Regions from separate parts of the Homo sapiens genome. Here regions 2 and 3 are each linked to region 1. Evidence: fine-mapped expression QTL. A gene starts in region 1. Each other region holds a variant in brackets. All regions are shown on one strand. Distances are between the middles of the regions.

The links. PIP is the estimated chance that this variant, and not a neighbour inherited with it, causes the effect.
Region 2: its variant is the best candidate, but not a certain one, in a credible set for the expression of GEMIN4 in blood mononuclear cells (TOPMed, PIP 0.56).
Region 3: its variant is the best candidate, but not a certain one, in a credible set for the expression of GEMIN4 in spleen (GTEx, PIP 0.79).

The regions. Positions count from the first base shown.
Region 1 is chr17:749,281-754,280 of GRCh38, reverse strand. GEMIN4 (gem nuclear organelle associated protein 4) reads left to right here and starts at 2,017. Exons shown (of 2, transcript NM_015721.3): 1 at 2,017-2,148. The coding sequence starts at 2,139. It also overlaps the pseudogene DBIL5P. RefSeq lists silencers at 1,638-1,897, 2,078-2,497 and an enhancer at 2,678-2,737.
Region 2 is chr17:774,253-779,596 of GRCh38, reverse strand. GLOD4 (glyoxalase domain containing 4) reads left to right here. Exons shown (of 9, transcript NM_016080.4): 2 at 853-902; 3 at 2,609-2,729; 4 at 3,678-3,822. Among named protein-coding and RNA genes, the nearest start is that of GLOD4, 5.4 kb to the left of the region's middle. The variant C/T (reference allele first, on the strand shown) is at 2,019.
Region 3 is chr17:613,843-618,842 of GRCh38, reverse strand. The region is part of intron 11 of VPS53 (VPS53 subunit of GARP complex); the gene reads left to right. Among named protein-coding and RNA genes, the nearest start is that of VPS53-AS1, 94 kb to the right of the region's middle. The variant C/T (reference allele first, on the strand shown) is at 2,529.

The DNA.
Region 1 (5,000 bases):
TCCTGTGATCATTAACAGGAGTAGAAGCTGGGCTCAGACACTCTGGCACTTGCATAGGTCAAGGGGTGTGTTGTGCTCTTGCAACAAATCCCACATAGACATCCATATGCATATTGTCCCACCGTCCCCTAAGCAGAAACCAGGGTTAAGTACAGAATAGTCCCGGGAACATTTTGGTTGCCCGGCCTTAGGTGAGCCTTTCTGGGGCTGGGATTTTGACACCATCTGCTCCATTGTTTCTAAACTGCTGTGTTCTGGCGCATCAATTGTTTCATCACATTATCATCACGGAAAGCTTGGTCTCCCTCAAAACATGAACCGGGTAGGCCCTGTGTTCCAGTGGGGGCTTTTGGACTTGACTTTAGTGTTTAGGAGGACAGAGTCCCTCTCCCCTCTGTGGTGCTGGGGTATTAGTAAATCAGCCTTGAAGAGATAAGGGGCTGGGGCCTCAACCTCCCAAGAGGCTGTCACTGGAGAATGGTCTCCTGCCCTCAGATCTTGGGCATTTCCACAGCACACTGTCCCCCTCGTCCTTCCAAATACCTACATACGCTCTTGTAATAGGAGAGCTGGGAACTCCACCCAAAACCATACAAAAAGTTAGTCTGTGTATTTGGACGCCTCCCCAGCACTCAGTCACCGAGTTTCTCCTTTCCAACAGCAGTCACTCTCATGCAGTTTAAGTGATTTATTGATGTCTCGGCTAAGCTTGCGACAGTTTCAGGACATTTCAGCCATCAAGGTCTAAGAAGCCCTTTCCATTCCCGAGGAGCCCTCAGCCAGCCTCCTTCTTCCTCATCTCCTCACTCTGGCCGCGTAGCCCCTCATGGCGTCCATCTTGGACGCCCCTTTGTTCGCGCTCCACGCCCCCCACTTCCTTCTTCGTCAGCTCCTCCACTTTGGCCGCGTAGCCCCTCATGGCGTCCATCTTGGACGCCCCTTTGTTCGCGCTCCACGCCCCCCACTTCCTTCTTCGTCAGCTCCTCCACTTTGGCCGCGTAGCCCCTCATGGCGTCCATCTTGGACGCCCCTTTGTTCGCGCTCCACGCCCCCCACTTCCTTCTTCGTCAGCTCCTCCACTTTGGCCGCGTAGCCCCTCATGGCGTCCATCTTGCACGCCCCTTTGTTCGCGCTCCACGCCCCCCACTTCCTTCTTCGTCAGCTCCTCCACTTTGGCCGCGTAGCCCCTCATGGCGTCCATCTTGGACGCCCCTTTTTTCGCGCTCCAAGCCTCCCACTTGGCCCTGGCTCTCACGTCTGAGGCCGGAGGGCCGGGGATGTCGCAGTCGCCCTGGGTGGCCTGTTTGTACAAGCCGTAGACCAGCAGCTTCTCCTGATCGCTCACGGGACCCTTCAGCTGCTTGAGGGCCGCGCAGCTCGAACTCCACTTGGCACATGGGGTGGTGGAGGCGGTCCCTGGTGCTAGAAGCTGGAGGTGGAGAGTTGGAGTGGCTGTTACTACTCGATCTCAGGGGGAGGAGACAGGCACGCGATGTTTGTGTTTTGTCAAGCACAGATTGCAAGCTCGGGGTCCAGCGTAAACCCCACCATGTTTGGGCTCACACGGCGCATTTTCTGGGGAGGACCAGCCGTCAAAAAGCGTCTAGGATCCGGAACGCTGCTGTCTGGAGGGGGCGGCGCGGCAGGAGCGCGTTGAGGGACTGTATGTGGCGCGAGCTGGGCGGGTGGGAGTGGAAGCCTCGCGTGGTGCGGCCGCGCTGGGTGGTGGGCGTCCCGGGGGAGGCGCTCGGTGGGGGTGAACTGTGTGCGGGGCACGCCCGGGGTTACCGGGTGAGGGTGAATGCGGGGCCGGGGAATCATGAGCCCGACCCGCTGGGACCCCGGAAGAGGGGCCGGGCAGGGGACGGTGCGGAGGGGTCTAGTGAGCGACGTCCGGGTACCTGAGGGCTGGTGGGAGGGCTCTGCCGGAAGGCGGCGCTGTGCGCTTGGCGCGCTCGTTCGTGAGGACTGCGCGTGCGCGGCGGAGGCTGTGGGCGGGGCCGGGCGGAGGTTGTGAGCAGGCCTAAGCGCGGCCGCCGTGGCTCCTGCGTCTCCCATCGTGCCGTGCGTCCCGCGCCGCGTTCGAGTTCTCGGAGGGGAGGGGGCGTTAGCCCCGCGCAGCCGCCGGCGTCGCCGCCATGGACCTAGGTGGGTGCCGCGGCTCCCCGGCCCCGGGCTGCGTCCAGCAATGCGCCACCAGAGCGGTGCTGCCCCGTCGCGTCTCCTCCTGTCGCGCACGCTCGCGCGGGCCCGGACCGAAACGTCCCCCGCGTCGGGGCGGGTCTAGGGGTCCCGGGGTGGCCTTGGCGGGGGGTGGTCCGGGTCCCGCCGCGCGTTGGGCCGCGTCTTGCCGCCTCCGGCCCCCTGCGCTTGAAAACACGGAGCAGACGTGAAGTTAGAGCCCTTGGAAGCGCCCGGGGCTCGCGCACGTGCTTTGGGAAACGGGCTCCCTCCGAGCACCCCTGGGCGCCCCGACGGCCTCATTTCCTGAACGGCAGCTGCGTTCTTGAGCAAGTGTCTTAACGCTCCAAGTGTCTTACGCTCATGACGTTTCCTCATCGACAGAGCGGGGAGAATGGAAGTGTGTCTCCCCACTGAGTTTTGGGCGACTTTGCATTGAGATCGCCGAGGTACAGTGTCCCTTGTGGGGTTGCGCGGGTCACACCCGCGGTGGGGGCGGCTGCGCTCCTGAGGTATCACTTTGTGAACCTGCGTGCGTCCGGATTCAGAATCTTACAGGCAAGGTCTGGGAGGGAGCCCATAGGAACTAGATGCTCCCTGCTAAATCTTGGCACACGCTGCTAAGACCAGGAGGCTGTTCTGGGAGAGCTGGGGGTGAGGCACCCCGAGATGTGTCAGCAGTAGTAGGCTGGGGGGAAATGGTCTGGTCCCCGCCCCCAGACAGCTTTTCAGGAGCGGAATGGCAGAGCTCTAAGGGCTTGGAGCCCCTCAGCCGTAATTGCTTCCCAGCCCCACCACATTCAGGCTGGGACACCCTCAGCAAATCGTTTCTGCGCCTCAGTGTCCTTATCTCTAGAGCAGGAATACTAGTCCTCAAAAGGTGATTGTGAATAGAAGAGATCTTACCTGTGTACCACCTAGCACAGTGTCTGGCATGGAGTAGGTGCTTAATAAACCTAAGAAGCGGGCTGTGGCAAGCACTAGTTAACCATCCATGATAGAGTACCGGAGTATTTTCCAGCTAGTAACCGCCCTGGGACTTACTACTTCAAACTGTGCGTACTTAATGCGCCTGGAAGGCAGGTGTTTAGGGCCAAACATCTGCTCAACTAAGCCAATAATGCAATAAAATTAAATTTACAGCGTCAGGAGGGACTATATTTTGGGACCCTGGGAGAGCCTCCTGAGCCAGAAAGAAGGGCGGTAACCCCCAGGGAGGTCCCCTTCGCAGCGTAACCCTCCCTGGGAGTCGGTCTCAGCCACTGTGAGATGAGATGGATTGCCTCCACAAGTGGGTTACATAGTGCTGAGCCCTTGGCCTGCTGCCGCTCCCATAAATGGTGGGAGGGGTAAGATGGTCCTTAGTCTCCTGGAGTCAGTGTTTTCTCTGCTGGTGTCTGGCCTGTGAAAATGGGGAATATGAGCTCTTGGGGGCATGACAGACTGAGGAAGGAGTAGCATCTCTCACTCCTGGGAAAGGGGAGATGACTCAGGAATGAGGAATAGGGAGCAGTGTTTGCACCCTCGTTTTAGTTTCTGGGCCAAAGGAAACATACCTGATAAAGACCTACATCCTTTGATGTTTCTGAGCTGGGGGAGGCAAAGAATAGTGACAAGATTCTGGTCTTGCCAACCATGAAAAGGTTTGGGGAAACCAACATTTACTGAGCACCTAATTAGACTCTGTAACTGGATTCTTACTGTAGCTCTATCTCATTTATCCATCATAGCGTCCCGGGGAGATGGGGTCAGGAGATAGCAGTGCCAACCCACTAGCAAGGGCTTGACTGGTATATATCACATGATCCCCAAAGGCATAACATGAAGTCTGTATTATCCCCACATATGCAGAAGGAAGGCTTGGAGAAGCAATCTGACCAAGATCACATCCCTTTTTTTTTTTCGGAGATGGAGGGGGAGTCTCACTGTGTTACCCCAGCTAGTCTTGAACTCCTGGCCTCAGGGATCCACCTGCCTCAGCCCCCCAAGTAGCTGGGATTACAAGTGCTAGCCACTGAACCTGGCCAGAATCACATCATTTTTAAATGGCTGAACTAGGATTTAAACCCATGTCTGATTAAACATCCCAAGATGTTTTCCATGGTAAGTCTGTGTCAATCGTTAGTTCCCTGAAGGAAGGCTTAATCTAGCACAGTATTTTCTGTATCTACTCCCTGGTTTCTCCCACAGAGCTAGGGCCATGAGTACCTTGTTTTTGACTGGAAGGAGCTGTGGGGTGGACCGTTTCCCTGAAAGCTAGAAGAATGTTTGAAGCCTGTTCCCAAGGCAAGTTTATAAAGAGTGAAGGCAGGGCTTGTCTGATTCCTTCTGTGCCCATTGCTCTGTGGCTATGTGATTGCTCTGTGCCCATTACCCTGTGGCTGTGTGACTGCTGCTGTGCCCGTTACCCTGTGGCTGCGTGATTGCTGCTGTGCCCATTACCCTGTGGCTGTGTGATTGCTCTGTGCCCATTATCCTGTGGCCGTGTGATCGCTCTGTGCCCATTACCCTGTAGCCGTGTGATTGCTGCTGTGCCCATTACCTTGTGGCTGTGTGATTGCTGCTGTGCCCATTATCCTGTGGCTGTGTGATTGCTCTGTGCCCATTATCCTGTGGCTGTGTGATTGCTCTGTGCCCATTATCCTGTAGCCGTGTGATTGCTTCTGTGCCCATTACCCTGTGGCTGTGTGATTGCTGCTGTGCCCATTATCCTGTGGCCGTGTGATTGCTGCTGTGCCCATTACCCTGTGGCCGTGTGATTGCTCTGTGCCCATTACCCTGTGGCCGTGTGACTGCTGCTGTGCCCATTACCCTGTGGC
Region 2 (5,344 bases), 25 kb before region 1:
GTGCAATCTCAGCTCATTGCAACCTCTGCCTCCCGTGTTCAAGCAATTCTCCTACCTCAGCCTCCTGAGTAGCTGGGATTACAAGCGCCCACCACCATGCCTGGCTAATTTTGTATTTTTTATATTTTTAGTAGAGATGGGGTTTCACTGTGTTGGCTAGGCTGGTCTCGAACTCCCGACCTCAGGTGATCTGCCCACCTCAGCCTCCCAAAGTGCTGGGATTACAGGCGTGAGCCACGATGCCCATCTTTTTTTTTTTTTTTTTTTTTTTTTTTTTAATTTGAGATGGAATTTTGCTCTTGTCACCCAGGCTGTAGTGCAGGGGCACGATCTCGGCTCACTGCAACCTCCATCTCATGGTCCAAGTGATTCTCCTGCCTCAACCTCCTGAGTAGCTGGGATCACAAGCACACGCCACCACGCCTGGCTAATTTTTGTATTTTTAGTTGAGACGGGGTTTCACTATGTTTGCCAGGTTGATCTTGAACTCCTGACCTCAGGCAGTCCACCCACCTTGATCTCCCAAAGTGCTGGTATTATAGGCGTGAGTCACTGTGCCCGGCCCAAATCAGACTTCTTTAATGCTGAAGGCCACACTTTTTCCCACTGCATAGCACTGCTTACCAATCTAAATAGATTTCACAACTGATTTGGTAGCCTGACCCTTGGTGTCAAGCTGTTCGTCCTTCCACTGCTTCTATCCTGGGAGAAGTGTAAAGCTCATTTGCTTTTGTTCTTTTACAAGTAAAGCTTATAAATGATAATGTTTGTGTTTTGACATTTTAGTCTGTGCTAAAGACGCTGTGAGCAGTACTAGCAACACTTCACAATTTATTCTAAATCTCACACCAGGTTCTGCGGCATGAGGAATTTGAAGAAGGCTGCAAAGCTGCCTGTAATGGGTATGATACCTTGTTTCTTAAAATCTCCTTTAGGCTCTGACTACACCCGGATAACAGAAGACAGTTTCTCAAAGTGAGTATAAAGCAGTGGAATTAATTAAGGAGGCAGTAAATTAGGGAGGCAACTTCAGGAGCGTCGGGAACACATACTGTTTCTCTGCACTCTCATGAGTATAAAGCAGTGGAATTAATTAAGAAGGCAGTAAATTAGGGAGGCAACTTCAGGAGCGTCGGGAACACATTTCTCTGCACTCTCATACAACACCTGTGGGACACAAAGGGATTCTCCAGCTCTCTAACACCAGCCGGCTGTCCTGTTATTTAATTGATTCTGACTCTACCTGGAGTTAATGTCAGATCCTGCAAGTTAAGGGCTCAGTCCCAGAAGATTTTCCGCCACGTCAGGCGCCGGTCACAGTCTGGATCTTCAGGATTTCCGATGACCAACTACAAGTCAGGGCTCCCGCTCCTGCTTCCTTGGGTTTGATAGTCTGCTACAGTGGCTCATGGAACTAAGGGAAACGCTGGAAACACTTACTTACATTTACTGGTTTATCATAAAGAGTACGAGTCAGAAATGGCTGGACAGAGGAGATACACAGGGCAGGGCATGGGGAGTGGGTGGCAGAGCTTCCATGCTCTTCTGGGCAGGCTCCAATCCAGCACCTCCCTACGTTCAGCATCCCAGAAGCTCATGAGTCTCATTGTTCAAGCCTAATAGAGCCCAGTCTCCATCCCTTTCCTTCCCAGAGGTTGGTGGATGGGACTGAAAGTTCAGTCCTCTAATCATTTGTCTTTCTGGTGACCAGCCCCATCCTGAGTCTATGTAGAGGCCCCACTCTAAGTCACTTCATTAGCATAAACTCAGGTGTGACTGAAAGGGGCTCATTATGAATATAACAAAAGATATTCCTATCAGGAAATTCCAGAGGTTTTGGGAGCTCTGAGACAGGAACCAGGGACAATGACCAGATATGTTTCATATTATGCCACAAATGCAAATAAGTACATGCTCTAGATGAAGCAGCGGCTTTCCAGTATCTTTTTTTTTTTGAGACAGAATCTCACTTTGTCACCCAGGTGGGAGTGCGGGGTCATTATCCTGGCTCACTGCAA[C/T]CTCTGTCTTCTGAGTTCAAGCAATTCTCCTCCCTCAGCCTCCCTAGTACGTGGGACTATGGGCATGTGCCACCATGCCCAGCTAATTTTTGTATTTTTAGTAGAGACGGGGTTTCACCATGTTGGCCAGGCTGGTCTCGAACTCCTGACCTCAGGTGATCCTCCCGCCTCGGCCTCCCAAAGTGCTGGGATTACAGGCCTGAGCCACCACGCCCGTCCATCTCTTAAGCTTAGTACCGTGACAAGTTGGAACAGTCCAAGGCCTATTAGGAATTTCATGCTTGTTGATTGATAGTCAAGGAAATAACAGGTCAGTTGGAGAACTGTCTTTAGGATTCTGTTCCTTGCTTTACAGAAAAGGTGAACAAATCTTTCCTTCAGGTAGATGCTGGATAGTCTTTGGAGCTTGTAGTAGGGTCCCATGAGCACTGCCCACAGCTGCTTTCTGTACCATCTGAGGTCATCTCATCCTTAAGAGAACTTTTAGGACCAGACAGGAATGCTCATCTCTCTGTGCCCAGTAGTTCTCTGGGGGTGGCCTGAGGCTGACTTGTCTGTAGTCACTGAGTTCATTTACTTTTATTTTCTAGGCCTTATGATGGGAAATGGAGTAAAACAATGGTGGGATTTGGGCCTGAGGATGATCATTTTGTCGCAGAACTGACTTACAATTATGGCGTCGGAGACTACAAGCTTGGCAATGACTTTATGGTAAATACCGTTTTTTTCTAGCAGAGTTTTGGCTGGGGGTAGGTGGCTGGTTGTAAATTTGAGTAGAGTGCCAAGGGTGTGTGTGAGTGAAGAGATAACATTTGAGCAGAGACTCAAAAGAGGTCAGGGAGTTAGCCACGTGGATATCTGGGGGATGCGCGTTCCAGGCAGAGAATATTCTGGCAAGAGCCGTCAGGTAACATCTGGCGTGTTCGAGGAGGTGTAAGGAAGCCAGTGTGGCTGGAATAGAGAACGAGAGGGGAGCGTGGTAAGAGATGGGGTCGGCAGTGCCATGGGGTAAGACTGCAGGGGGCCTCCTAGGCCGTAAGTCACCGAGTGAAATGAGCCATTGGCGGACTTTGAGCAAAGGGAAAACAAGGCTGGCTGCAGTCTGGGGGTGGACTATAGGATGCGTTTTGGAAAGTTTACTTTGGCTGCAGAGTGGGTAATGGATTTACAAGACTGGAGGCAGAGAGGCCATTATAATAAACCGAGCCAGAAACAAGGCTGGTCTTCTCAAAGCACACGTGTACATTTCTAGGCACTTTGATTAAATGTAAGGAAACCTTGATAGTTTGCTTATTTTTGTTTTGTTTGTTAAAAAAGCAAGAACAGGTCACCTTAAATAGGTAGCTAGCTGGCAGACCCAGGTAACATCAAGATTTCTGTGGCTAGATCTTTAGAATTAGAAGACGTTATCTTTGGTGTTAAATGAATCAGACTTCACTGGCATTTCAATTTCTGTCCTATTATTCACAAAGGTCTGAATGTTTGTGGGATAAAACATTGAAAACCTGTTTTTAAATCACTAGAAGAAAATGTTGGATGCCAGTTAAATCTTAGGTGATTTTACCTAAAGGCAGTAGGCAATAGGGGTTGGGCTCATTGTCTTGTTCTGTAAAATATCTGTTGTGATCATGTACTTGGATGTACTGTTGTTTGTTGTAGGGAATCACGCTCGCTTCTAGCCAGGCTGTCAGCAACGCCAGGAAGCTGGAGTGGCCACTGACGGAAGTTGCAGAAGGTGTTTTTGAAACCGAGGCCCCGGGAGGATATAAGTTCTATTTGCAGAATCGCAGTCTGCCTCAGTCAGGTAATTATACCAGAACCAGTAAAAGCCTCTGTCTAAAGGCATCTTTGGTGAAAGGAGAGTGAGGGCTGCCTGTCTTTTTTTTGTAGAGTCTGTGTTCACGTGACGTGTCTTCCCCAGCCAGTGCTTTTACCTGTTATCGGAGAGACTACATTCTCATATCAGAACTTAAATACATAGCAGTAGGGGATCTAGACTAGTTCTGTTCTACTGGTAATGTAGTGATTTATGATTCTTTCATCTGTAAATAACAGAAAACCCAACTACTTTGAACAGTTATAGAATCTTTTAGCTCACAGAGCAGGCATTCTATAGGTGGGAAAGATTTCAAGGTTAGATGATTCACCAGCTCCCCACATTTTCTCTTTCTACGTTCTGTTGTTCTCTGCGGGTACCTCTCCTAGAACTAGTCCCCTCAAGGTTGCAGGAGAGCTGCCAGGAGCAGGTGGGGCCACATGCTCCCACAATCCCATCTGGTAGGAGAGGAGATGCTGACTTCTTTTTGCTTTTTTTTTTTGAGACTCTGTCAGTCCGGCTGGAGTGTACTGGCATGATCTCTGCTCACTGCAACCTCTGCCTCCCGGGTTCAAGCAATTCTCCTTCCTCAGCCTCCCAAGTAGCTGGGATTATAGGCGCCTGCCACCACGCTCAGCTTTTTTTTTTTTTTTTTTAGTATTTTTATTAACTTTTAAAAATTATTTGTTTTTTGAGACGGAGTCTTGCTCTGTCGCCCAGGCTAGAGTGCAGTGCTGCAATCTCGGCTCACTTGCAACCTCCGCCTCCCAGGTTCAAGTGATTCTCCTGCCTCAGCCTCTCCAGTAGCTGAGATTACAGGCACATGCCACCACGCCCAGCTCATTTTTGTATTTTTAGTAGAGACAGGGTTTCACTATATTGTCCAGGCTGGTCTTGAACTTCTGACCTCACTTGATCCGCCTGCCTCAGCCTCCCAAAGTGCTGGGGTGACAGGCGTGAACCACCGTGCCCGGCCCTTTTTGCTTTCTTTTTAGGAGCAGAAGAAAAACTTTCCTAGAATCTTCCAGCAAACTTCCTGTTCAGATTTGATATACTGTGCCTGCTCCTAAACCAATCACTGGCAAGAGAAATAGGATCACCCCCAAACCATTTAGCCATGCCTCCTCTGGAGCCGAGGTCAGTTTCCCAGACTTGAGCGTGGGTACTCAGGGATGGCATGGAAGTGAGGAGCCCCCACGCTGACTGCCACACAGAACAAGAAGGAAACTTTGCAGGGTTTGTTTTGTTGACTGCAGAGGCAGCCTCATCAGTGTTTCATTTTGTATTTAATGCCTGCAAATTCAGCTACCTGCTCTGACAAAACAAAAGCAAAAACGGGGAAAATGCTGGCGAATGGCAAGGGCACTTGTGCCGACTCCCTTACTTGGTGAACGTATGCCTGCAAGTGGGCCTGAGAAGGGAGTCCTGGAAATTCTCCTTCTTCACTGGTCGGCCTCCTGTCCCCGATGCCCCCATGCTGAGTCTGTAGAATGTTCAGTGCTCCTTGTTT
Region 3 (5,000 bases), 140 kb after region 1:
GTGCACACGTGTAGTCCCTGCTACCCAGGAAATATTAGCAGGCCTGGTGGGCGCCTGTAGTCACAGTTACCCGGGAAATATTAGCGGGGCATGGTGGTGCACGCCTGTAGTCCCAGCTACCCAGGAAATATTAACAGGCATGGTGGTGCATGCCTGTAGTCCCAGCTACCCAAGAAATATTAGCAGGTGTCGTGGGCACCTGTAGTCCCAGCTACCCGGGAAATATTAGCTGGGCATGGTGGTGCATGCCTGTAGTCCCAGCTACCTGGGAAATAATAGCGGGGCCTGATGGCGCATGCCTGTAGTCCCAGCTACCCAGGAAATATTAGTGGGGTGTGGTGGCGCATGCCTGTAGTCCCAGCTACCCGGGAAATATTAGTGGGGCGTAGTGGCGCACGCCTGTCGTCCCAGCTACCCGGGAAATATTAGTGGGGCGTGGTGGTGCACGCCTGTAGTCCCAGCTACCCGGGAAATATTAGTGGGGCGTGGTGGTGCACCCCTGTAGTCCCAGCTACCCAGGAAATATTAGTGGGGCGTGGTGGCGCACGCCTGTAGTCCCAGCTACCCGGGAAATATTAGCAGGCGTGGTGGTGCACGCCTGTAGTCCCAGCTACCCGGGAAATATTAGTGGGGCGTGGTGGCGCACGCCTGTAGTCCCAGCTACCCGGGAAACATTAGTGGGGCGTGGTGGCGCACGCCTGTAGTCCCAGCTACCCGGGAAATATTAGTGGGGCGTGGTGGCGCACGCCTGTAGTCCCAGCTACCCGGGAAATATTAGTGGGGCGTGGTGGCGCACGCCTGTAGTCCCAGCTACCCGGGAAATATTAGTGGGGCGTGGTGGCGCACGCCTGTAGTCCCAGCTACCCGGGAAATATTAGTGGGGCGTGGTGGCGCACGCCTGTAGTCCCAGCTACCCGGGAAACATTAGTGGGGCGTGGTGGTGCACGCCTGTAGTCCCAGCTACCCGGGAAATATTAGTGGGGCGTGGTGGCGCACGCCTGTAGTCCCAGCTACCCGGGAAATATTAGTGGGGCGTGGTGGCGCACGCCTGTAGTCCCAGCTACCCGGGAAATATTAGTGGGGCGTGGTGGCGCATGCCTGTAGTCCCAGCTACCTGGGAAATAATAGCGGGGCCTGATGGCGCATGCCTGTAGTCCCAGCTACCCGGGAAATATTAGTGGGGCGTGGTGGTGCATGCCTGTAGTCCCAGCTACCTGGGAAATAATAGCGGGGCCTGATGGCGCACGCCTGTAGTCCCAGCTACCCGGGAAATATTAGTGGGGCGTGGTGGCGCACGCCTGTAGTCCCAGCTACCTGAGAGGCTGAGACAGGAGGATCACTTTAGCCCAGAAGGCAGAGGTTGCAATGAACTGAGATTGCACCACTGCACTCCAGTCTGGGTGACAAAGTGAGACTGTCTCAAAAAAACAGAAAAGGAAAGGAAATAGGAACAGAGATCCCACTGAAGGAATCCTGAGTTTCTCCTGAGAAGTATGAGGTTGGCTTTAGCAGCCCCCTGATTCCTCTTGCTGGCTCTCCTCTCGGACCTTCCCAAGCCATGCTCCTGCCTGGTTTCAAGCGTAGATATATGTGGCACTGGATTCAGCCCTACGGAGATCTGCCCGGCGACAAGCATGAGGGTTCAGCATTGAGCACAGGCCCCACCCTGGGAGTAGCCCCCTGAGCTCCCACGGCCTCTGGCTGGGCAGGGTCCGGAGAGCATCAGGACAGGCTCTGTGAGCTGGTAATCCAGATAACCGGACGGGAAATAGGTCCCAGTGAAGGATGCTTGAATGACATTCTTGCCAAGCACTTGTTTTGAGCCATTCTTCACCCTCTCTGGCTGGGCCCTACTTCCTGGTGATTTGTCTTTTACATTTAGGGAGCTATAGGACCACAGAGGAACAAATGGCCCTGTTGCATCTGAGGACCAGGGTAGCCTGTGAACCTGGGTCTGTCCCAGGACCTCTCCAAGGAAAAATCCCCCAAAGGCCAAAAGTGGTAAGGGAACGAGGGCAGGGAAGGCCCTTCTGGACAAGCTGAGGCAGCTGAACAGGGTAACCACGTAGAGACCATGAAAAACTGACAGGAGCTTACTCAAGTTTGCAAAGACAATGCTTTATTGTAAAACACAGGTACAGGACTGTCAGAATGGCAGTTGGCCAACTGTCAGACACCTTCTGTCCCGGGAGGACTGGGCTGGGGGTACTGGTTTCTCAGGGCAGCACAGCCCCTTTCTGCCTGAACTCACTCGGCCAGGGCCAAGCTCCTGGCCTGGAGCCCAGTGTCTCCTGGCCGAGGTGGTGCTCTGTGGTGGTGGTCAGGGGTCAGCTAGGAACACTTGAGCCTTTTTCCCCAGCTCCTTCCTTTTTGGTTTTCATATTTGAAATGTTTTGGCAGAACTGGTCTTTAAATCATCCCCTCTTCATTGTTCAGTTGTTGCTCTCCTCTCCTCTCAAGTTTGCAGAGTTTCAGGTTCTAAATCCTTAGCCAGAAAAGCCTGATGAACACCATGAGTTCTTTCTTTC[C/T]CTCTCTATTTAGTCAGCTCTCCTCTCCACAGACTTCTCTAAATCCTTCAGCTTCTTTAATTCAACTTCGTCCTCCTACCCTATTCTTTGTGCCAGGTATCACGACCTGGCAGTTATTCTGCATTCCAAATCCTGAAAATGGCTGTCTGATATCCTTCAAGGGTTTTCCCTTAAAGATAAGTTTCTAGGAAGGCAACAGAAGCCCTATGGCCACTTTACCCAGGTGGGACGGGCCTTGAGGAATCGGTTCACTGCAGCTCTGCTGTGAGGAGACGTGAAGGCTGTCACTCTAGCTGATGTTCACACTGAGCCTGGTCCCCACCATCATCTCATTGTGGGCCGTGCACGACCTTCTTCACCTTTATTCTGCGACCCTCAGTGGCAGGGACCTTGGTGAATTCATCATGGCTACCGACCATGCTCCCAACGCAAAGCACCGGGAAGGGGCTGCCTGGGCAAGGCCAGGAGTTCCAGCTGTCCTGACCCCCAGTCTAGCTGCTGGGTACCCTGCCTGGAGATATGCTGCTCCCTGGCCCCTGACCCCTTCCCCATGCTACCTTCCTTTCAGGATACACTCTTTGGAAACTCCTTTTTGGCTACCATTTTGTTTCAAAATACCAGAATAAATTGTGAAACGAACCAAGGTATATCTTGATACCCTTTGATATATGCCAGATTTTATAGAAAGTTACTGAATTCCTCAGAAAGGTGCCACAAAACAGGTAAGATGTCAGCCAAGGAGCCAAAACGGCCAGAGACTCTCCCTTGCTGCCCCTCCCTAGGCTGTACGTCATCCCCACCCTACCCCCACTGCCGCCTTCACTGTATCATTCCAAACCTCTCCAGTCCTTGGTGACTGGCAGTGAAACAGTGAGGATGAGCTTGAGAGTGTGGCCAGCTCGCCCGGAAGACAAGACCTGCCACAGCTCAGCTCCTCCTGACCCATCACTCCTGACTTCAGTGGGATGCATCATCCTTGGCTCTTTTTCAAGAGCTGTGACTTCAACATTTGATAGAACTTTAGACTGAAAGAGCCTCAGGGACAGGCTTGTTGCTTAACCAGTTTCACGATGTCCTGTGCTGTAACTGTTACTTGAGGAGGTGAGCTGCCTGTGCTTTTCCCAGTTGCCTCAACTTCTGACCCTTTAGGAGGAATTCAAGAGAGTCTATAAATTAAAATGCCTTGAAATTAAAAGAGAATGTCTGGATGTGATGTAACTGGATCCATATGCATTATTAGTGACTTGATGATTAGATTCAAGGTGAGCAAATGACATTCAGCCTTCTGCTGAAAGCAGAAAAGCAGACTAGATCGGATTAGCTTTTTATAACTGCCTCACTGGGAGGTTTTTGTTTTGTTTTTTGTTTTTTTTGTAGTAATAAAATTAAAAATGTTCCCCTTTTATGCAGCTGGATTTCCCTTCCTCTTGACCACTGCATAAGTTGCCTTTTGAAACAGACTTGTCCTTTGGCTTATAGGGGCCTTTACTTCCCCAGTTTTTAGAATTACATTCTAAAGATAGAAGCTATATGGGTACAATTGTCAGCCATGGAATTTGAGTGTAAGAGCGTTTGCAAAAGGCTCACGACTCATGAAAGACCACCCAGCATGTCTCACTCTACACCCTGGTCTTCCGGCACCTGCATGAGGGAGACTGTGTAAGGAACAGGGGCAGGTTTTCCAGCTCTGCCACAGCTTGAGGACATCTGTCTCCGACAGTGACAGATTCCCCCGCCTCATGCACTCCCTTCAGCGTTGGAAAATATTTTATGGATGCTTTACTGGTGCTAAAGAAATGTATTCTTCCATTTGAATAATATTGCAAGGGACGATTAACTTCTGTTTCTGAGAAGAGAATAATACAGGGTCAGGATAGAAAATTTGGAAATTATGGCGAGAATAGAGAAGCAGGAAAAAAGTCATCCAAATCAGAGATGAGGATTTGGGTATATTCTTTCTATATATTTTACATGGTTGAAATTGTATTTTTTTAAATACAGTTTTCTCTGCCTAGTTTTTAAAATTGAGATATAACTCATGTCACGAAATGTCACATGAAATTTATCGTTTAAAGTATACAGTTCAGTTGGTTTTCATATATTCATAAGATGATGCCACGATCCCAGCTGTGCAACTCCAGGACATTTCTGTTACCCCAGAAGAAATCCCTCCTTAGCAGGCAGGACTTTCAAGTTCTCTTTCCCCAGTCCTGGGCAGTTACGAATTGACTTTTGTCTTTACGGATGCCTGTTGTGGACACTTCACATAAACGGATGCTACGATGTGTGGTTTTTGTGTCTGCCTTCCCTCCCTCTGGACAGTGTCTGCGAGCCTTACCCATGATGAGGTGTGTGTCAGTGCATCATTTTGATGGCTGAATAGTGCACCGTTGTGTGGGTGATGCACATATTGTTGTCTCTTCCATCAGCTGTGGACATTCGGGTGGTTTCCACTTTTTCACTGTGTGAATA